Homo sapiens: one gene and its partners. The protein of the gene in region 1 interacts with the protein of each later gene in a biochemical or structural test. Each region holds a gene or a part of one and is shown in the gene's direction. Other genes may lie near its edges.

Evidence for each region.
Region 2: the proteins of PKD1 (region 1) and NPHP1 are reported together in a solved structure, tested with the Homo sapiens proteins (one study listed by BioGRID and IntAct).
Region 3: of the proteins of PKD1 (region 1) and PIP5K1C, one has a biochemical effect on the other in vitro, tested with the Homo sapiens proteins (one study listed by BioGRID).

What each region holds. Positions count from the first base shown.
Region 1 is NC_000016.10:2,104,739-2,111,898, reverse strand, and holds part of PKD1 (polycystin-1 isoform 1 precursor), read left to right. Parts: intron 1-27; coding exon 28-3,647; intron 3,648-3,866; coding exon 3,867-4,016; intron 4,017-4,950; coding exon 4,951-5,094; intron 5,095-5,145; exon of another isoform or gene 5,146-5,221; coding exon 5,222-5,501; intron 5,502-5,594; coding exon 5,595-5,808; intron 5,809-5,874; coding exon 5,875-6,034; intron 6,035-6,424; coding exon 6,425-6,577; intron 6,578-7,160. UniProt on the Homo sapiens protein: Component of a heteromeric calcium-permeable ion channel formed by PKD1 and PKD2 that is activated by interaction between PKD1 and a Wnt family member, such as WNT3A and WNT9B. Both PKD1 and PKD2 are required for channel activity.
Region 2 is NC_000002.12:110,159,797-110,167,160, reverse strand, and holds part of NPHP1 (nephrocystin-1), read left to right. Parts: intron 1-2,005; coding exon 2,006-2,109; intron 2,110-2,430; coding exon 2,431-2,473; coding exon of another isoform or gene 2,474-2,641; intron 2,642-4,025; coding exon 4,026-4,113; intron 4,114-5,463; coding exon 5,464-5,558; intron 5,559-6,905; coding exon 6,906-7,034; intron 7,035-7,364. UniProt on the Homo sapiens protein: Together with BCAR1 it may play a role in the control of epithelial cell polarity. Involved in the organization of apical junctions in kidney cells together with NPHP4 and RPGRIP1L/NPHP8. Does not seem to be strictly required for ciliogenesis.
Region 3 is NC_000019.10:3,690,179-3,697,542, reverse strand, and holds part of PIP5K1C (phosphatidylinositol 4-phosphate 5-kinase type-1 gamma), read left to right. Parts: intron 1-7,364. UniProt on the Homo sapiens protein: Catalyzes the phosphorylation of phosphatidylinositol 4-phosphate (PtdIns(4)P/PI4P) to form phosphatidylinositol 4,5-bisphosphate (PtdIns(4,5)P2/PIP2), a lipid second messenger that regulates several cellular processes such as signal transduction, vesicle trafficking, actin cytoskeleton dynamics, cell adhesion, and cell motility.

The sequences.
Region 1 (7,160 bases):
CTGCCCCACTCGGGCCTGTCCCCACAGGTGAGTACCTCCTGACCGTGCTGGCATCTAATGCCTTCGAGAACCTGACGCAGCAGGTGCCTGTGAGCGTGCGCGCCTCCCTGCCCTCCGTGGCTGTGGGTGTGAGTGACGGCGTCCTGGTGGCCGGCCGGCCCGTCACCTTCTACCCGCACCCGCTGCCCTCGCCTGGGGGTGTTCTTTACACGTGGGACTTCGGGGACGGCTCCCCTGTCCTGACCCAGAGCCAGCCGGCTGCCAACCACACCTATGCCTCGAGGGGCACCTACCACGTGCGCCTGGAGGTCAACAACACGGTGAGCGGTGCGGCGGCCCAGGCGGATGTGCGCGTCTTTGAGGAGCTCCGCGGACTCAGCGTGGACATGAGCCTGGCCGTGGAGCAGGGCGCCCCCGTGGTGGTCAGCGCCGCGGTGCAGACGGGCGACAACATCACGTGGACCTTCGACATGGGGGACGGCACCGTGCTGTCGGGCCCGGAGGCAACAGTGGAGCATGTGTACCTGCGGGCACAGAACTGCACAGTGACCGTGGGTGCGGCCAGCCCCGCCGGCCACCTGGCCCGGAGCCTGCACGTGCTGGTCTTCGTCCTGGAGGTGCTGCGCGTTGAACCCGCCGCCTGCATCCCCACGCAGCCTGACGCGCGGCTCACGGCCTACGTCACCGGGAACCCGGCCCACTACCTCTTCGACTGGACCTTCGGGGATGGCTCCTCCAACACGACCGTGCGGGGGTGCCCGACGGTGACACACAACTTCACGCGGAGCGGCACGTTCCCCCTGGCGCTGGTGCTGTCCAGCCGCGTGAACAGGGCGCATTACTTCACCAGCATCTGCGTGGAGCCAGAGGTGGGCAACGTCACCCTGCAGCCAGAGAGGCAGTTTGTGCAGCTCGGGGACGAGGCCTGGCTGGTGGCATGTGCCTGGCCCCCGTTCCCCTACCGCTACACCTGGGACTTTGGCACCGAGGAAGCCGCCCCCACCCGTGCCAGGGGCCCTGAGGTGACGTTCATCTACCGAGACCCAGGCTCCTATCTTGTGACAGTCACCGCGTCCAACAACATCTCTGCTGCCAATGACTCAGCCCTGGTGGAGGTGCAGGAGCCCGTGCTGGTCACCAGCATCAAGGTCAATGGCTCCCTTGGGCTGGAGCTGCAGCAGCCGTACCTGTTCTCTGCTGTGGGCCGTGGGCGCCCCGCCAGCTACCTGTGGGATCTGGGGGACGGTGGGTGGCTCGAGGGTCCGGAGGTCACCCACGCTTACAACAGCACAGGTGACTTCACCGTTAGGGTGGCCGGCTGGAATGAGGTGAGCCGCAGCGAGGCCTGGCTCAATGTGACGGTGAAGCGGCGCGTGCGGGGGCTCGTCGTCAATGCAAGCCGCACGGTGGTGCCCCTGAATGGGAGCGTGAGCTTCAGCACGTCGCTGGAGGCCGGCAGTGATGTGCGCTATTCCTGGGTGCTCTGTGACCGCTGCACGCCCATCCCTGGGGGTCCTACCATCTCTTACACCTTCCGCTCCGTGGGCACCTTCAATATCATCGTCACGGCTGAGAACGAGGTGGGCTCCGCCCAGGACAGCATCTTCGTCTATGTCCTGCAGCTCATAGAGGGGCTGCAGGTGGTGGGCGGTGGCCGCTACTTCCCCACCAACCACACGGTACAGCTGCAGGCCGTGGTTAGGGATGGCACCAACGTCTCCTACAGCTGGACTGCCTGGAGGGACAGGGGCCCGGCCCTGGCCGGCAGCGGCAAAGGCTTCTCGCTCACCGTGCTCGAGGCCGGCACCTACCATGTGCAGCTGCGGGCCACCAACATGCTGGGCAGCGCCTGGGCCGACTGCACCATGGACTTCGTGGAGCCTGTGGGGTGGCTGATGGTGGCCGCCTCCCCGAACCCAGCTGCCGTCAACACAAGCGTCACCCTCAGTGCCGAGCTGGCTGGTGGCAGTGGTGTCGTATACACTTGGTCCTTGGAGGAGGGGCTGAGCTGGGAGACCTCCGAGCCATTTACCACCCATAGCTTCCCCACACCCGGCCTGCACTTGGTCACCATGACGGCAGGGAACCCGCTGGGCTCAGCCAACGCCACCGTGGAAGTGGATGTGCAGGTGCCTGTGAGTGGCCTCAGCATCAGGGCCAGCGAGCCCGGAGGCAGCTTCGTGGCGGCCGGGTCCTCTGTGCCCTTTTGGGGGCAGCTGGCCACGGGCACCAATGTGAGCTGGTGCTGGGCTGTGCCCGGCGGCAGCAGCAAGCGTGGCCCTCATGTCACCATGGTCTTCCCGGATGCTGGCACCTTCTCCATCCGGCTCAATGCCTCCAACGCAGTCAGCTGGGTCTCAGCCACGTACAACCTCACGGCGGAGGAGCCCATCGTGGGCCTGGTGCTGTGGGCCAGCAGCAAGGTGGTGGCGCCCGGGCAGCTGGTCCATTTTCAGATCCTGCTGGCTGCCGGCTCAGCTGTCACCTTCCGCCTGCAGGTCGGCGGGGCCAACCCCGAGGTGCTCCCCGGGCCCCGTTTCTCCCACAGCTTCCCCCGCGTCGGAGACCACGTGGTGAGCGTGCGGGGCAAAAACCACGTGAGCTGGGCCCAGGCGCAGGTGCGCATCGTGGTGCTGGAGGCCGTGAGTGGGCTGCAGGTGCCCAACTGCTGCGAGCCTGGCATCGCCACGGGCACTGAGAGGAACTTCACAGCCCGCGTGCAGCGCGGCTCTCGGGTCGCCTACGCCTGGTACTTCTCGCTGCAGAAGGTCCAGGGCGACTCGCTGGTCATCCTGTCGGGCCGCGACGTCACCTACACGCCCGTGGCCGCGGGGCTGTTGGAGATCCAGGTGCGCGCCTTCAACGCCCTGGGCAGTGAGAACCGCACGCTGGTGCTGGAGGTTCAGGACGCCGTCCAGTATGTGGCCCTGCAGAGCGGCCCCTGCTTCACCAACCGCTCGGCGCAGTTTGAGGCCGCCACCAGCCCCAGCCCCCGGCGTGTGGCCTACCACTGGGACTTTGGGGATGGGTCGCCAGGGCAGGACACAGATGAGCCCAGGGCCGAGCACTCCTACCTGAGGCCTGGGGACTACCGCGTGCAGGTGAACGCCTCCAACCTGGTGAGCTTCTTCGTGGCGCAGGCCACGGTGACCGTCCAGGTGCTGGCCTGCCGGGAGCCGGAGGTGGACGTGGTCCTGCCCCTGCAGGTGCTGATGCGGCGATCACAGCGCAACTACTTGGAGGCCCACGTTGACCTGCGCGACTGCGTCACCTACCAGACTGAGTACCGCTGGGAGGTGTATCGCACCGCCAGCTGCCAGCGGCCGGGGCGCCCAGCGCGTGTGGCCCTGCCCGGCGTGGACGTGAGCCGGCCTCGGCTGGTGCTGCCGCGGCTGGCGCTGCCTGTGGGGCACTACTGCTTTGTGTTTGTCGTGTCATTTGGGGACACGCCACTGACACAGAGCATCCAGGCCAATGTGACGGTGGCCCCCGAGCGCCTGGTGCCCATCATTGAGGGTGGCTCATACCGCGTGTGGTCAGACACACGGGACCTGGTGCTGGATGGGAGCGAGTCCTACGACCCCAACCTGGAGGACGGCGACCAGACGCCGCTCAGTTTCCACTGGGCCTGTGTGGCTTCGACACAGGTCAGTGCGTGGCAGGGCCGTCCTCCATGCCCCTCACCCGTCCACACCCATGAGCCCAGAGAACACCCAGCTTGCCACCAGGGCTGGCCCGTCCTCAGTGCCTGGTGGGCCCCGTCCCAGCATGGGGAGGGGGTCTCCCGCGCTGTCTCCTGGGCCGGGCTCTGCTTTAAAACTGGATGGGGCTCTCAGGCCACGTCGCCCCTTGTTCTCGGCCTGCAGAGGGAGGCTGGCGGGTGTGCGCTGAACTTTGGGCCCCGCGGGAGCAGCACGGTCACCATTCCACGGGAGCGGCTGGCGGCTGGCGTGGAGTACACCTTCAGCCTGACCGTGTGGAAGGCCGGCCGCAAGGAGGAGGCCACCAACCAGACGGTGGGTGCCGCCCGCCCCTCGGCCACTTGCCTTGGACAGCCCAGCCTCCCTGGTCATCTACTGTTTTCCGTGTTTTAGTGCTGGTGGAGGCCGCACGCTCTCCCCTCTCTGTTTCTGATGCAAATTCTATGTAACACGACAGCCTGCTTCAGCTTTGCTTCCTTCCAAACCTGCCACAGTTCCACGTACAGTCTTCAAGCCACATATGCTCTAGTGGCAAAAGCTACACAGTCCCCTAGCAATACCAACAGTGAGGAAGAGCCCCTTCCCACCCCAGAGGTAGCCACTGTCCCCAGCCCATGTCCCTGTTGCTGGATGTGGTGGGCCGGTTCTCACCCTCACGCTCCCCTCTCTGGACCGGCCAGGAGGCTTGGTGACCCTGAGCCCGTGGTGGCTGCTCCTGCTGCTGTCAGGCGGGGCCTGCTGGTGCCCCAGAGTGGGCGTCTGTTCCCCAGTCCCTGCTTTCCTCAGCTGGCCTGATTGGGGGTCTTCCCAGAGGGGTCGTCTGAGGGGAGGGTGTGGGAGCAGGTTCCATCCCAGCTCAGCCTCCTGACCCAGGCCCTGGCTAAGGGCTGCAGGAGTCTGTGAGTCAGGCCTACGTGGCAGCTGCGGTCCTCACACCCACACATACGTCTCTTCTCACACGCATCCCCCCAGGGGCCCTCAGTGAGCATTGCCTGCCTCCTGCTAGGGTCCAGCTGGGTCCAGTACACCAGAACGCACACTCCAGTGTCCTCTGCCCTGTGTATGCCCTTCCGCCGTCCAAGTTGGAAGGTGGCAAACCGGATGAGTATCCTGGGAGGGAGTGAGCTCACCGGCAGTGGCCAGGCCCCTGGGAAACCTGGAGTTTGGGAGCAGCATCCTCCATGGGTCCCCCAGTCCTTCCAGCAGGCCAAATAGACCTGTGTTGGAGGTAACCCCACTCCCACGCCAGGTGCTGATCCGGAGTGGCCGGGTGCCCATTGTGTCCTTGGAGTGTGTGTCCTGCAAGGCACAGGCCGTGTACGAAGTGAGCCGCAGCTCCTACGTGTACTTGGAGGGCCGCTGCCTCAATTGCAGCAGCGGCTCCAAGCGAGGGGTGAGTGTTGAGCGGGGTGTGGGCGGGCTGGGGATGGGTCCCATGGCCGAGGGGACGGGGCCTGCAGGCAGAAGTGGGGCTGACAGGGCAGAGGGTTGCGCCCCCTCACCACCCCTTCTGCCTGCAGCGGTGGGCTGCACGTACGTTCAGCAACAAGACGCTGGTGCTGGATGAGACCACCACATCCACGGGCAGTGCAGGCATGCGACTGGTGCTGCGGCGGGGCGTGCTGCGGGACGGCGAGGGATACACCTTCACGCTCACGGTGCTGGGCCGCTCTGGCGAGGAGGAGGGCTGCGCCTCCATCCGCCTGTCCCCCAACCGCCCGCCGCTGGGGGGCTCTTGCCGCCTCTTCCCACTGGGCGCTGTGCACGCCCTCACCACCAAGGTGCACTTCGAATGCACGGGTGAGTGCAGGCCTGCGTGGGGGGAGCAGCGGGATCCCCCGACTCTGTGACGTCACGGAGCCCTCCCGTGATGCCGTGGGGACCGTCCCTCAGGCTGGCATGACGCGGAGGATGCTGGCGCCCCGCTGGTGTACGCCCTGCTGCTGCGGCGCTGTCGCCAGGGCCACTGCGAGGAGTTCTGTGTCTACAAGGGCAGCCTCTCCAGCTACGGAGCCGTGCTGCCCCCGGGTTTCAGGCCACACTTCGAGGTGGGCCTGGCCGTGGTGGTGCAGGACCAGCTGGGAGCCGCTGTGGTCGCCCTCAACAGGTGAGCCAGGCCGTGGGAGGGCGCCCCCGAGACTGCCACCTGCTCACCACCCCCCTCTGCTCGTAGGTCTTTGGCCATCACCCTCCCAGAGCCCAACGGCAGCGCAACGGGGCTCACAGTCTGGCTGCACGGGCTCACCGCTAGTGTGCTCCCAGGGCTGCTGCGGCAGGCCGATCCCCAGCACGTCATCGAGTACTCGTTGGCCCTGGTCACCGTGCTGAACGAGGTGAGTGCAGCCTGGGAGGGGACGTCACATCTGCTGCATGCGTGCTTGGGACCAAGACCTGTACCCCTGCCTGGAGCTTTGCAGAGGGCTCATCCCGGGCCCCAGAGATAAATCCCAGTGACCCTGAAGCAGCACCCCGACCTTCCGCTCCCAGCAGCCACACCCACCGGGCCCTCTCCGGCGTCTGCTTTCCACAATGCAGCCCCCGCCCAGGAGGGCCCATGTGCTTACCCTGTTTTGCCCATGAAGAAACAGCTCAGTGTTGTGGGTCAGTGCCCGCATCACACAGCGTCTAGCACGTAACTGCACCCCGGGAGTCGTGGGCATCTGCTGGCCTCCTGCCGGCCTCCTGCGCTGCTGACAGCTTGCTGTGCCCCCTGCCTGCCCCAGTACGAGCGGGCCCTGGACGTGGCGGCAGAGCCCAAGCACGAGCGGCAGCACCGAGCCCAGATACGCAAGAACATCACGGAGACTCTGGTGTCCCTGAGGGTCCACACTGTGGATGACATCCAGCAGATCGCTGCTGCGCTGGCCCAGTGCATGGTAGGATGGCCCCACCTGCTCACCCTGCCCCGCATGCCTGCCAGGGCACTGGGTTCAGCCCCCCAGGGCAGACGGGCAGCTTGGCCGAGGAGCTGAGCCTCCAGCCTGGGCTCCTTCCTGCCATGGCGTTCCTCGGTCTCTGACCTGCTTCAGTAGCCTCAGCCGTTCTGTCCTGTGTGAACGCAGGGTGCCTCTCGGGGGACCCAGGGTGTAAAGAGGGGCCCAGATGTGGGGAGGGACTAAGAAGATGCTGCTCTGTGCCCTCCACTCTCCCCTCCCCTCCCCTCCCCCTTCCCTCCCCTAGCCCCTCCCCTCCTCCCCTCCCCTAGCCCTTCCCCTCCTCCCCTCCCCTAGCCCTTTCCCTTCTTCCCCCCCAGCCCTTCCCCTCCTCCCCTCCCCTTTTTCTCCACTCCCCTCTCCTCTCTCCCCTCCTCCTCCGCTCTCATGTGAAGAGGTGCCTTGTGTGGTCGGTGGGCTGCATCACGTGGTCCCCAGGTGGAGGCCCTGGGTCATGCAGAGCCACAGAAAATGCTTAGTGAGGAGGCTGTGGGGGTCCAGTCAAGTGGGCTCTCCAGCTGCAGGG
Region 2 (7,364 bases), on another chromosome or scaffold:
TGTGCCAGGAATCAGTGACAAAGAACAAATACATGTTTTTCATTACACACATTTTTAAAAAGTAAAAAGAAACAGGTAGAATTATTTTTAATAATATATTTTATATTATCCAGTATATCAAAAATACTATTTTGACATATCAATATTTAAAAATATTGAGTTGTTTTGCTTTTTTAACATTAAGTTCAAAATCCAATGTGTGTTTTACATTTACAGCACTTCTCAGTTTGGATTAATTTCAAGAGCTCACTAGCTACATGTGGCCAAAGGGCTATTGTATTACATAGGGCAGGTCTAGATCATCTTTTTCAATGGCAGCAAGTCTTCTAATCTCATTTAGATGGTCATTGAAGTTGTTTCCAACCTATAATCACTATCGATTATGTTGCAAAGAACATGGGATTAGCATCCACTGTCAGTTGCAAAAAGATCCCCCCAAAAAGTAGCTTAAATAAGGTAGAAGCCTATTTCTCTCAAGCATAAAAGTGTGGAGAAAAGCAATCAATAATTGGTTAAGATCCTATCCAGTATTTTATCCTGTTTCTGATGTGAGGCTGCTCTGCCTAGAGTTATCTCTTTAGTTTTAAGTCAGCTGCTGGATCTTTTAAGGATTCCAAGGAGCAAAAGGGGAAAGAATTCAAAAGGCATAAGCTGCTGCCTTTTTAAGAAGGTTTCTTGGAAGTTACACAAAAAAACTTTCAACTGTTGCTCATTGACCAGCATTTAGTTCTCTGGCAACAGTTAGCTGCAAGGAAGTCTTGGGAAATGTAGTCTTTTAACTGGATCATTGTTAAATCAGGGATTTTGTTTGAAAAAGGAGGTGGGGAATAGGTGGTAGCCAGCCAGCAACTTGTGTTGTCATCAAGCCTGCGTGCATCTTTGCACACTTGCCCGATTATCCCCTTAGATAAATTCCTAGATGTTCATCACTGGTTCAAAGGGTTTATAGCTTTATATTTTGATTTATTTTTCCAATTTGCCTTTTAGAAAAGTTATGCCAATTTGTACTCCCACCTCTAACAATCAGTGAGTGCTGTTTCCTCACACAATTGCCAGTGATGGCTGTTAGCAATCTTTAAAATTTTTGCCAATATGACCAGCAAAAAAAGTGTCATTAGTGGTTTAATGTGCATTTACTGTACTCCTAATGAGGTTAAGCATCATCTCATATGCTTTATGACCATTTGTATATCTTCTTTGCGAATGGCACTTTCGGTTTTCTTTATTGATACATAATATTTTATGTATTTGTGTGAGTGCTTTTTACTTGTATGGATTGTGTAATAATCAAGTCAGGGTATTTGAGATTTCCATCACCTTGAGTGCTTATCATTTTTATGTGTTGGTACCTTTTCAGTTCTTTTGGATATTTTTTTCTAAGGGATTTAAAAAACTCTTTCATTGATTTCTAAGAGCTTTTATAATATTTTAATAATCAGGATATTAATCCTTAGATATTTGTGTGAGCTATTTTCTTTTTTTCCCCTCAGGATATGCTTAAGTTATGTGTTAGATATTTTCTTTGTTGACTTTAGGTCATGTTTATTTATTATGTAGCTAAATCTGTCAGTGTTTCCACTTATGATTTTTGATTTTGTATCATGATTGGAAAGGGCTTCCCCATCTCTAGATTATTTTCTTCTAATGCTTTTATGTTTCTTTTATTTTTATCTTTACGTCTTTTCTTTTTTATTTAAGTAAATTCCATCTGGAATTTATTTTGATTAAACTTGCTGTCTATCTCAGTTCTTATTTTTTCAAATAGCAAAGTTATTAACCATGTGTTGAAAATTTATTTCCCACTGAGTTTTATATGCTCATCATATATACTAAATTCCCATCTATGCTCAAGATTTTCTGAAAGTACTGATGCTTTTGTTTTTTTGTTTTTAAACAGAAAAGCTTGTTTTTGTTTTTACTGGAGGGTTAGGTGGCAGTACTGGTATTTTTATTGGTTGTTTTTTGCATTAGTTAAAAAGCACTTCACATTTCAATGGTTTTTTAGCCTTATAGTGAAGAAGAAGAAGGCCAAGAGTCAAGTGAAGAGGGCAGTGAAGAAGATGTAGAGGCGGTGGATGAAACAGCAGATGGAGCAGAAGTTAAGCAAAGGTACAAAAGTGGGAAAGGATATCAAAGTAGGTTTAGGAAACATTTTATTTGTTTATTTTTATTATTATAACTAATTCAATACTTTCTTGAAATGGAGACAACTTGTACCTGGAGAGCTTTTCATACTATTGTCTGCTTAAAGATCATTACTGTTTTAGTTTTGTAATTATTTTTAATACATTTAGCTCTACCTCGTTTTCATCTGGAAACTGTTAGATTTTCAAAACTTACTGATGATTATCAACTGTGATTAAAGAAGTTCCCTAATTGAGTGAATAGGCATAACCTGACCTGACTCACTTTGCTATTTTGTCTCCCCAGAACTGATCCCCACTGGAGTGCTGTTCAGAAAGCGATTTCAGAGGCGGGCATCTTCTGTCTTGTTAATCATGTCTCGTTTTGCTACCTAATAGTTCTGATGCGAAATAGGATGGAGACTGTGGAAGACACCAATGGATCTGAAACAGGGTTCAGGGCATGGAATGTACAGAGCAGAGGACGTATATTTCTGGTTTCTAAGCCTGTGCTCCAAGTAACATTTCTCATTAGTTTTTTTTTTTTTTTGTACAAAAAGAATAGATAATTCATGGTGTCACTTGAGGACTTGGAAACATTCTCATTGATCCTGCTTTCCTATCATTTGAGTGGAAACAGATGTTAAATTTTATTTACTATTCGAAAAATCCTGAAAGCCTTTAATAAAAAGTAAGAAATTGGCCAGGCATGGTGATTCACACTGGTAATCCCAACATTTTGGGAAGCTGAAGCAGGAGGATCACTTGAGGCCAGGAATTCAAGACCAGCTTGAGCAACATAGTGAGACCCTATCCTACAAAAAATAAGAAAAATTAGCCAGGTGTGGTGGCTCATGCCTGTAGTCCCAGCTACTCGGGAGGCTGAGGTGGGAGGATTGCATGAGTTTGGGAAGTCAAGGCTGTAGTGAGCTGTGATTGTGCCACTGCACTCCAGAGCATGAGTGACAGGGCAAGACCCTGTCTTAAAAAAAAAAAAGTAATTAATTACATTTTTTTAAAGGAGAAATGATCCATAATTCTGTCATTAAAAAAAAATTACAGGCCGGGCACAGTGGCTCATGGGCACAGTGGCTCACACCTGTAATCCCAGCACTTTGGGAGGCCAAGGCGGGTGGATCACCTGGGGTCAAGAGTTCAAGACCAGCCTAGTCAACACAGCGAAACCTCACCTCGACTAAAAATAGAAAAATTAGCTGGGCGTGGTAGCGCATGTCTGTAGTCCCAGCTCCTGGGGAGGCTGAGGCAGGAGAATTGCTTGAACCTGGGAGGCGGAGGTTGCAGTGAGCCGAGAATACTCCACTGTACTCCAGCCTGGGCGACAGAGTGAGACTCCGTCTCAAAAAACAAAAAAATAATTACATAGCCAAATGAAAATTCTCTTCCTCAAACTCATAAGTAATCACCATTAACAATTTAGTACGTGTCCTTCCTGACCTTTTTCGTTATTTATTACTTATAAGTACATCCTTGTATGTGTGAGGGTGTGTGTCTATGAGTAGTGTGTATGTGTATACAAAAAAAATCCATTAATTCTTCAGTGCATGTGATTTGCCAATAGACATTAACTTACCTGTGAAATGGAAGCGCAGGGTGGAGCAGGACAGGAGCAGGGACATTTTGATAAGGGTATACTTGAAGCAGCTGCTCCGGAACACACAGCTCTGCACGCTGGGCACTGTATGGGGCTTAGGTCCTTAGGAGAGGCCAGGGTGCTGTGATGGCATCCTCTCAGGAATTTGGGGCCAAATCGTATTATTCTTCCACTAAAGTCTGTATGTTTATATTTTTCTTTTTTGGGTTATAGTTACTCTAGTGATAAAGTATTATAGAGATGCAGAAACATGACTGAAAACAAATCCATTTTGATGTTACTGTCTTCAGCAGATAAACACTGTTGATGTGTTAACTACGATGGGAGCTATTCCTGCAGGGTTCAGGCCTTCCACGCTCTCACAGCTTCTGGAGGAAGGTAATGCGTGCCTATCAGCCACTGCACTCTTTCAGCAAAGCAGTCAAGATCCACGTCTAATTTTTCTGTCACAGGCAAAACACATTGTTGAAGAAGATGTTGAATCTCACATCTCTTTGGTGCTCATCTTTTCCTCATCCTTCCTATGACAGTGAGGAAAGATCCCTGATCCTATCAGAGGCCAGCCTGTTTACCAGTGCTCCGGGTTCCAGCCCCTTTCTTTTTTTCAAAAATGTGACTCCTTTAATTTTCAGCCCTTTCCTGTGTCTTTAGCTGGCCCACCTTCCCCACACTGGTTCATTCCCTCATCTGTGCTATCAGCACACCTAATTCTCCCCACCTTAAAGGATCAGCCCCTTGAATCCTATCCCATTCTAGCCAAAACCTCCTTTTCTCTGATCTTCTTCCAAGCAAGACTTTTCCAAAGAATTATCTCCATTTGGAATTTTCATTTTCCTTACTCATTCTTGGCTTTCCCTGTATTTGGCAACTTTTGTCTATAAGCTCATTTTAAAGAGGATTCATGCTGGGGGACAAGGGGTGTCCTGTATACCCTGAGTTGTTGAGTTGTCATGGAAGGGCTGCTTTGAGGATGCCTTTGCTGGGAAGGTTCTTCCCAGTACTCCCTAAATTCCCATCTTTTCATCCTTCAGGTCTCGCGGTAAATTCTGCCTTCCCAGAGATGCCTTCCTTGAGTAATGTGGGTTTCCCTTACTCCCATTCATGTGAACACCCTTTATAGCTCTATGTCCCCTAATAATTATTTTATTTATTTGCTTGTCTACTTATTTTCTAAGAAAATTTTCCTCCCATTCAACTGTAAACTATGGAGGGCAGGGGACATATCTCTGATTTATCTTTGTATTTCTAGAACCTGGTGTAGCATCTGGCAAGAGTAGAAGCTCAAAAATTATTTCTCGAATGGATAAATGATGTTATTAAAAGTATTATTCATGACTAAAGCATGGAGGAAGAGCATAAAATGCTTTTGTGTTAAGAAGTAAAACTAACGACTTTGTTTTTTCTGAAGTCTCCAAAAAGTGCTCATAGATTTCTGCATTTTACAAAAATATTTGAATGAATCCTTGTCATCATGGGGCATATTATTGGCCTAAAAGTCTTTCTTAAAGGTGCTTTAAGATGATCTTTTATGTGTTTGTATCTGTAAGTTTTGTACTGCTGTTTTTATCCATAAATCTATATTGGCGCTTCTATTTTGGAAAGCAAGTTCTTAGTAAGCAGCGTGGCATTTTGGAAGTGCCTGTACTCTAGTTCATAGCATAACATTATGGATTTTTGATTTGGAGTTTCTTTCTTTGTAAGAAAATGAAGAAAAAATGATTTTTTCAGGGAATCAATTTCGAGCAAATTACTTCTTACAACCAGAGCTCATGCCTTCACAACTGGCCTTCAGAGATCTGATGTGGGATGCTACAGAAGGCACTGTAAGTATAGTTACTATCAGTAAAAGTGTAACTCTTCCAGATTTTGTCATAGTTGCAATTAGACAAACAACATGTTAATTGACTAATGAATTATAAAAAACAAAAAAATTGTTTATGATAATTTTGAAAATAGCGATATTTTTATAACTAAGGCAGAATTTGGACTTGCTACCTTGACTTTATCTTGTTTCTCTTCTCCATTGCACTCTTCTCTCATTGTTAGAAAGGAAATAATACTAGGTTTCTATCTTAATCATTCTTTGCCTCAATTTCTTCATCTGTAAAGATGGAGTAATAGTAATGCTTCCAACATAAAGTTATTTTGATAATTATGTGTGTGAAGGGTTTTGAATAATGCCTGGCATATGAAAAGAACTCAATAGATGTTAGCCATTATTATCATTTATAGTAGTAGTAGCAGTAGTAGTAGTATTTTTGAGACAGGGTCTCCCTCTGTCACCCAGGCTAGAGGGCAGTGGTGTGATCATGGCTCACTGTAACCTCAAATTCCTGGGCTCAAGCGACCCTCCCACTTCAGCTTCCTGAGTAGCTGGGGCCACAGGCCTACACCACCATGCCCAGGTAATTTTTGTATTTTTTGTAAAGATGGGGTTTTGCCACGTTGCCAGGCTGGTCTCAAACTCCTGAGCTCAAGCAATCTGCCCTCCTATCCCTCCCAAAGTGCTAGGATTACAAGTGTGAGCCACCAGTCCCAGTCTAATATAAGTTATTTAAATGAAAAGGCTTATGACCGTAAAGCAGAATGTAAAGTTTAATGAATTGAAGCTGTTCTTAAAAAATAAAAAATCAGAATGCCAATTTATTTACTCACAATCTGAATTATACCTATGAAGCAGATCTGAATAAATATATCAGATAGTGCATTCTCTCTGTTAAAACACCTATTAAGAAACTAAGGAACTATGCAGATAATTGCTTGGAATAAAAAATAGTGGGGATAATCTTAATGCCAGGTGGCATTGGTTTTATGCTGCGTTAGCCTTCTGCACTTACCCACATTCTGTAGGAGTGAACCGGGACTGGAATACAGTGATTCTATAGTCATAGATCATATACATTTTGCCTGCCAATATTTATTGTTCCTTTCATCACAGCTTTTAAGTATTTAAGAAAAATGCAATATTTCAAATGTAACTCTATGAAAAATTTACCTAAAATGACTGATTTAATTTTCAATGAACAGAGTATTGAAACTTTTATTGTATATGTGTAAATTTTTTCTTTTTTAAAAATTCTGTATACATTTTCATAAGCCGAATTCACAAAAGACAGATTTGTGTTAGAAATCATAAAAATAAACTTTTTTATAACTAATTTTTCTTTCAGATTAGGTCGAGACCAAGTCGTATTTCATTGATTCTGACATTATGGAGCTGTAAAATGATTCCTCTTCCAGGAATGAGCATACAGGTTCTCAGCAGACATGTACGCCTCTGTCTATTTGATGGTAATAAGGTAAGGTTACTGAGAAGTAAATCAATTCATACTAGGATTATGGAGAAACATTCCCTTAGATTCTTTTCCATTCAACTCCTCCCCAATTCCCAAGAGAGTATTTTTTACCTAGTACCAAAGAAAAATTTGAATGACTCTTTGAAAAATTCATTTTTTAAATGAGATACAGGTTAAACAGTACTTAGATGGAAATTTATAGTTTTAATTGTGTATATTAAAAAAAAGATAAAAGATTTAAAGTCAGTGATCTAAGCTAGCAAATCAAGAGGCTAGAAAAAGAAGAGTGAGTTAAACCTGAAGAAAGTAGAAAGTGGGAAATAATACAGATAA
Region 3 (7,364 bases), on another chromosome or scaffold:
GGTCCAGCTTGGTCCTCCCGGGTCCAGCTTGGTCCTCCCTGGTCCAGCTCGGTCCTCCCCGGTCCAGCTCGGTCCTCCTCGGTCCAGCTCGGTCCTCCTCCGTACAGCTCGGTCCTCCTCCGTCTGGCTGAGTACTCCCCGGTCCAGCTCAGTCCTCCTCCGTCTGGCTCAGTCCTCCTCTGTCTGGCTCGGTCCTCCCCGGTCCAGCTCGGTCCTCCTCCGTCCGGCCCAGTCCTCCTCCATCCGGCTCGGTCCTCTATCCGGCTTGGTCCTCCTCCATCTGGCTCGGTCCTCCCGGGTCCAGCTCGGTCCTCCCCGGTCCAGCTTAGTCCTCCTCCATCCGGCTCAGTCCTCCCCAGTCCAGCTTGGTCCTCCTCTGTCCGGCTCGGTTCTCCTTCGTCCGGCTCAGTCCTCCTTCGTCTGGCTCGGTCCTCCTTGGTCCTCCTCGGTCCAGCTCGGTCCTCCTTGGTCCAGCTCGGTCCTCCCCGGTCCAGCTCAGTCCTCCTTTGTCCAGCTCGGTCCTCCTCGGTCCAGCTCGATCCTCCTCCGTCCAGCTCAGTCCTCCTCGGTCCAGCTCAGTCCTCCTTTGCCCCCTGAGCCAGGCCTGGCGCCCCTGCTCTTCCTCTGCTCCCTGTCCCACATTCCAGGAGGACCCCATTAAAAACCAGCGGCCCGAGTCCCGACCCTCCTCTGCTCGCAGCCCTCCATGGCTCCCACCTCCCTTGGGGTCAAAGACATAGTCCTCTTTGAAGCCCATCAGGCCCTGCACAGCCTGCCCCGGGCCCTCCCTGCCCTCCCTGCCCTCCCCTCCGCACTCTGCCCTCCCTGCCCTCCCGTCTGCACTCTGCTGTAGGCCCATGGGCCCCTTGCTGTTCCTCCAGCATGCAGGGCATGGTCCTGCCCCGGGGCCTTTGCACGGCTGCCCCCCACCCCCACCCCGGAATGCCCCTCCTCCCATCTGTGTCCTTTGCTCCCTTAGCGCTTTCCAGGTTTTGTGGGAGCATCTCCTCTCCGTGAGGCCTCCCTGCCCTGCTGTCACCACACAGCGGTCTCCCCTTCTCCGTCCCCTGCCCTCCCGGTTCCTCTTCCCTGATTGTGCCACCATAGCGTTTGTCACCACCTGAAACATATGGCTCTGCTGACGTGTTTTCTGACCATCTCCTCCTGAGCGAGAGCTCCACGAGGGCCAAGACCGTCTGTGCCACTCCTGCGGCATCCCCTGCGCCCGGAAGAGCTCAGCACAGTGCAGATCCTGGTGAACATCAGGTGCATGAGGCCAGCAGTGCCAGGGAGGAAGGGTAAGGTAGAATGGGGTGGCTGGGAAGGCCTTGCCAAGAAGGTGGCATCCGAGGGAGACCTGTGGGCATTGGGCAGGAAGAGGGCATGGCCCCAGCAGAGGCCCCGCCTGCCTGGAGCACAGTGTAGTGTGGTCACAGGGCGGCCGGGCAGGGAGTCAGCACCGCCACCAGGGCCTCCCTGTAGCTGTGGTGGTCTGTGTAAAAAGGTCAGGGAGGCCGGGCACGGTGGCTCACACCTGTAATCCCAGCATTTTGGGAGGCTGAAGCAGGAGGATCACTTGATCTCAGGAGTTTGAGACCAGCCTGGAGCAACATAGCAAGACCCCTGTCTCTACTAAAAAAAAATTAAAAGAAGTAGCTAGACGTAATGGTATGTACCTGTAGTTCCAGCTACTCAGGAGGCTGAGGCAGGAGGATCACCTGAGCCTGGGAGGCTGAGGCTGCACTGAGCTGTGATCGTGCCACTGCATGCCTGGGTGACAGCAGAATCGTATCTCAAAAAAAAAAAAAAAAAAGGGTCAGTGGGATTGTGGTGTCTCTTGTTGCAAGTCAGCAGGGCCCAGGCGGAGGCTGAGGACACTGGGGACGGAAAGTTCCCCATTCTCTCCCGCCCTGGCCGCCTCCCGGGATGCAGGTCAGGCACTGTGACCACCACAGCCTGGGTGTCCCAGTGGAGAGGCCTCGGGGGCCGGCCCTCCTGGGTTCACACCCAGCGCCATTGCATGCCAGCCGGGGATGTGCAGCCTCGGTGTACCTGTCTGTAAAGTGGGCGTGATGGCTGCCTTTCTCCTGGGCTGCATGGAGAATCATGGGGTAAAGCCCTTAGAAGGCACGGGACAGGCAGCCGGCCCCGTGAGAAAGCTGGGTGCCCCCTCCGTCCCAGGTTGCTGTTGGAGGAGAGGGAGTCCCCTTCGTGTGCTGCTTCCGGGGCCCAGGTGCCAAGCGAGCTCACCTGGGCGCTGGGGTCCGCCATGGGAGTCGGCTCGTGAAAGTGTGAGTTCCACTCCTGGGCTCCAGACCTTTGTTGAGCACCTCGTGTGGGCCAGGTGGGGCTCAGGGTGCCCAGTCTTCTGGTGCTAACGGGACTGCCTCGCTGACCCCTTGGAGCCCTCAGGTTGCTGGGCGTCAGGCTGCAGATGGGAACAAGTGGCCACGTGAGACCCCACCCGAATCTGTCCATGCCGCTTCTTGTCAACAAAGTTTTATTGGCAACGGCCACACCATTTGTTCCGTTGCCGGCCTTGGTGGCCCCCACGCTGCAGCGGCAGAGCTGGGAGCTGAGTGGCCATGCTTGGGGCTACGTGTCCCACGAAGCCGAAAACACTTGCTGCCCGGTCCTTTACGGAAGATGTTTGCCCAGCCCAGAGCCGGGCTGCGTTGGGCGGTGATGAGTGTGGTGAGGGCACCTGGGAGGTCAAGTGGCCAGGCCTGCGGCAGCTGAGGACTCGGAGGGAGGTGACTGTCCCCACGAGCTGAATAAGGGTGGGCTGTGGCTCAGGCGATGTAGGCAGCGGAATAGTCGCGCCGAGGCCGTGGGGTGGGAACTTGCTGCACCCACTTGAGCCGCAGAAGTGAAGTCAACGTGGTGGGAGAGGGTCGCGTGGGGTCGGACCTGAGGACAGCGGGTGGCACGGGCATCTGAGTGGGGCGGCGAGCCCGATTCACAGCGCCTGGTGGGGGATGGTCCGTGGGCAGTGCTCTGTGGGGTTGGGGCAGGTGTCCAGGTGAGTGCCACCGGTGCCTGGAGGCAGACGAGGGGCCTGGAAGGATTTTGGCCTGGGCCCTGGAGCTGGTGGCTGGGGTGGCGAGGACTGAGGACAGAGCAGGACTGGGAGCCCAGGCACTGTGGCAGGTGTGTGCCGATGTGGGGTGAGCAGGCAGTGGGGACCCCCAAAGCAGGTGGAGGCTCCGGGAGCCTGGGCAGGGTGGTCCCAGGGCCTGGTGTGGGCTGAGCCTGCCTTGGCCGCTTAGACCCGTGTGCCTCTGAGCAAGTGACTTCCCTTTGTTTTAAATTTTTTTTTTTTTTTTTTTTTGAGATGGAGTCTCGCTGTCTCGCCCGGGCTGGAGTGCAGTGGCGCGTTCTCGGCTCACTGCAAGCTCCACCTCCCGGGTTCACGCCATTCTCCTGCCTCAGCCTCCTGAGTAGCTGGGACTACAGGCGTCCGCCACTACGCCCGGCTAATGTTTTGTATTTTTAGTAGAGACAGGGTTTCACCGTGTTAGCCAGGAGGGTGTTGATCTCCTGACCTGGTGATCCGCCCGCCTCAGCCTCCCAAAGTGCTGGGATTACAGGTGTGAGCCACCGCGCCCAGCCTCTTTTAAATTTTTAAAACTTTTTTGTAGAGGTGAGGTCTCACTATGTTGTCCAGGGTGCGAGGGTCTCGAACCCTTGGTCCCAAGCAGCCCTCCTGCCTCCACCTCCCAAAGTGCTGGGGTTACAGGCATGCGCCCCCATGGTGGCCCCTTCTTTCCCTTTTGGAACAAGAGCTGCGGGTGTCCTGAGTGCCTGGCAGGACAGGGATGGGTGAGGCCCTAGCCCCTGGGAAGCTGCACGACCTGGGTCTTTGTTTACAGATGGGGAAACCGAGGCTCCAGGAGGGCTGGAGAGTCCACACAGGGTGGGGCTGTGAACGAGGAGCGGGGCCCAGGCCTCCCTGCCGCCTGCCGCCTGCCGCCTGGCCCCGGCAGCATGTCCCTTCACGCAGGACCAGGCCGGTCAAGACCCTGCAAGGATTTGCCAGCAGGCGCCAGCTGGACGGGGCCCGTGGTGGTGCCAGTACTCATGGGGATTACAGCCTGAGGGGATTAGCTCGGAGCCCCTGCACCTGCCTCCCCGCCACCCTGAGAGGCCAGCTTGGGAGGGGCTGGAGTCGAGCATGAGGGCCCCCAGGTGCCTGAGCTGGCATGGGGGTGCGAGGGGACCCGGCCTCTGGCTGAGTGAAGAGAGGACCCCAGCACCCTGCCCGGCCGCTCTCCTCCACTGAAATGCCTCATGCCTCCACTTTGCAGGCAGGGCTGCTGCTGAAGGTTTCCGGGAGTGGGGTGTGGTTCGGGCATCGTCTACGTGTGCTTTCCTGCGTGTGCTGTGGCCGGGTGCTGGGAGCCTGGGGGAACGAGAGGGCCAGGCCCCCTAAGGAACTCTGGGAGTGGGGCCAGGACATACAGACAGCAAAGAAAAGCAAAACACGCAACGCAGTGGACAAGTGCCACGGAGAAGAGCCGAGCAGAGGAGGGGAGAGAGTGGCGGCGGAGGTGCCCTCAAGGCTGGGGACTCGGGGGCCACACTTGAACAGAGATCCAGGGGAAGTGAGGGGGTTGTGGAAGTGTGGAGGGAGCTGTCTGGCAGAGGCACTGTGCAAAGGCTCTGGGGCAGGACCACGCCTGGTGTTTTAGAGGAACAGTGAGGAGGGGAGGGCAGGGAGGGGACGGGGCAGGGTGTGCAGGGCCTTGTGGGCTGCAGGGAGGACTTGGGCTTTGACCCCAAGGGAGGTGGGAGCCATGGAGGGCTGCGGGCAGAGGAGGGATGGGCGAGACTCAGGAGCTCACAGGCACCCCCTGGTGGCTGCTGTGGGGAGGACAGATGGGGTGAGGGCGGGACGTGGGCTAGGGGAACCAGGGCAGAGGGGACTGCACTGGCCCAGGTGGGCGAAGCTGGGGCTGGGCCAGGTGGGGACCATGAGCAGTGCGCCATCTGGGATGGATTTTGGAAGCAGAGCCAGCAGGACCTTTTGAAGGTTGAGTGTGGGGCTGAGGGGGGATTGAGTTTGAAATCAAGATTTTAGCCTGAGCCCTGGAAGGACAGAGCTGCCCTCAGCCAAGATGGATGCAGGAAGGGCAGCATGGGGGCCGCCGGGGCCCAGCATGGCCGAGCTGCGAGGGAGGCCCCAGGAGCCCCTGTAGGGAGCGTTGGGGGCCGTGGTGGGAGCCGGCAGTGGGACTGGGTGGGGCCGTCGGGACCCTGGTGGTGGCTGTGCTCAGTGGACGGTGTCTCTGTTCCATTGTGCTGTTGGCAGGAGGACAGCTGAGATGATTGGGTTCGGTTGCCCAGCCGCTCCGTGCCTCAGTTTCCTCATTTGGAAAGCAATGTCCCTTGAGGATTAGATGAGTCAATGCACACAAAAGGCTCAGAGCCGGCCCTGCCCATGGTGGGCGCCCAGGGAGTGGGGACAGGGACGTGAGCGGGCAGCTCCCACTGTGCACCCTTCCCGTGCGGTGCTTGGACTGGCCACGGTGCATGCGCTGACATGGGCGGGGCTGCTGGGGCAGGGAAAAGAGCCTGGGGTGGGAGCAGCTGCCTCGGGGCCTGTGCCTGTGGGCGCGTATGAGCCAGCCTGGCTTGGCGTCTGCTGCTAAAACAAACATCCCCACTCTCCCGGCCATCCCAGAGGCTCATTTCTCGCTTGTGTTGGGGGCTTTGGTGGTTTTGCTCCCCGATCTCTCAGATCCCAGGTTGACGGAGGTGCTGTCACCCCCAGTGCAGTAAAGGCTCTATGCTTCTGTAACCCAGAAAGGTGGTACGTGTATTCAGATGCACTCTGATTGGTTTAAATCAGGCCTGGTGAGGCCAAGAGAGCAGGAGGTGACTGCTATTGAAAAGCTCTTGTGTTACAGTTCCCGAGGCTTTGGTTGGAAGGGACGGGCCAGGCGGGGTAGATGGGCTGGGTGTGCCTAGGATGGGCTGGTTTGACTCCCGACTGTTTGCGGCTCTTGGCTGTTGGGGTGGTCCCTGTTCTGGGAGCTGGCCCTGGGGTGATTCAGGGCAGGGAACCTGGGCGTGGCGCGTGAGAGTTTGATCAGGTGCGTGGGCTCGCGGTTGGTTGCTCTGCACGTCACAGTGTGCTCGCAGGCGGGCCGTTTGCAACGTTTAGGAATCCGCTTACCCTGGAAGGGGCCGTCATCCCCAGATTAGCGAGGCCCCCAAGATGTCGTAAAATCCAGAAAACAAAACGCAGCATCAGCACTGTACCAGACCGGGCGCTCCGTGTTCCGGCAGCGGAGGACGCGTCCATCTCTCCCATCCTCAGCAGCCATATGGGTGCAAGGCGACTTCTTCCCTCACTGCGTCATTGCAGCGTATATTCGTCTTCTTGTGACTCAGAGAAAAAGTCCTTGTGGCTCTTCGCAGCATTTCCTCTTTGTTTTCTTGGAACTGCGTTTCCACAAGGGGAGCAGAGACCACTAGAGGCGAAGGGACTCGCCACACAGGAGCTCCCTCCCACTCCTCCCGACGGTCACCTGTGTTTCTATCAAGAGCTGGAAAATGGAGTGTCCCCACCAGGGAGACGGGGTCACCACCGAGGCTGGCTCTGAGCTGCCTCAGCTCCTGCAAGCTCCGTGGCCCCGACCTCCACCCTCCCCGGCCCATTTTCCTTGCACAGTTCCTTCTTGTAAGCACACACGTCAGGTTGAACTCTGACCTCATTTTCTGGGACCTGTATGATTGTGTCTTTCCCAGTCTACAGTTATCTGTCACCATTTTGTTGATTCGTAGGAGCTCTTTATTTGTTATGGCAGCTACTCATTTATTGGTGACACAAGTGCAGGTACTTCTTTGCCCATCTTCTCCTACGATGATTGTTAACGTCTGGCAGGTATTTTGGGGTTTATGTGGTCAAACTTATCACTCTTTCCTTTTCTGGTTTCCTAGTTTGGTGTCATGAATGGGAAAGTCTTCCTGTTCTGAGGTTATGATTAAATTCTGCTAAGACTTTTATAACTTAGCTTCTTTTTTGTTCACATTTCAATTCTTTTTTTTTTTTTTTAAGACAGGGTCTCGCTGTATCACCCAGGCTAGAGTTCAGTGACACGATTGTAGCTCACCGCAGCCTCGACCTCCTGGGTTCAAACCAGCCTCCCAACTAGCTGGGACTGCAGGTGTGCGCCACCATGCATAGCTAATTTTTCATCTTTTATGGAGACAGGGTCTTCCCATGTTGCCTGGGCTGGTCTCGAGCTCCTGGCCTCAAGTGATCCTCTTGCCTTGGCTTCTCGATGTGCTGGGGTTACAGGTGTGAGCCAGTGCGCCCAGCCTATTTCTGGACTTTTTATTCTGCTCCACTCCTCTGC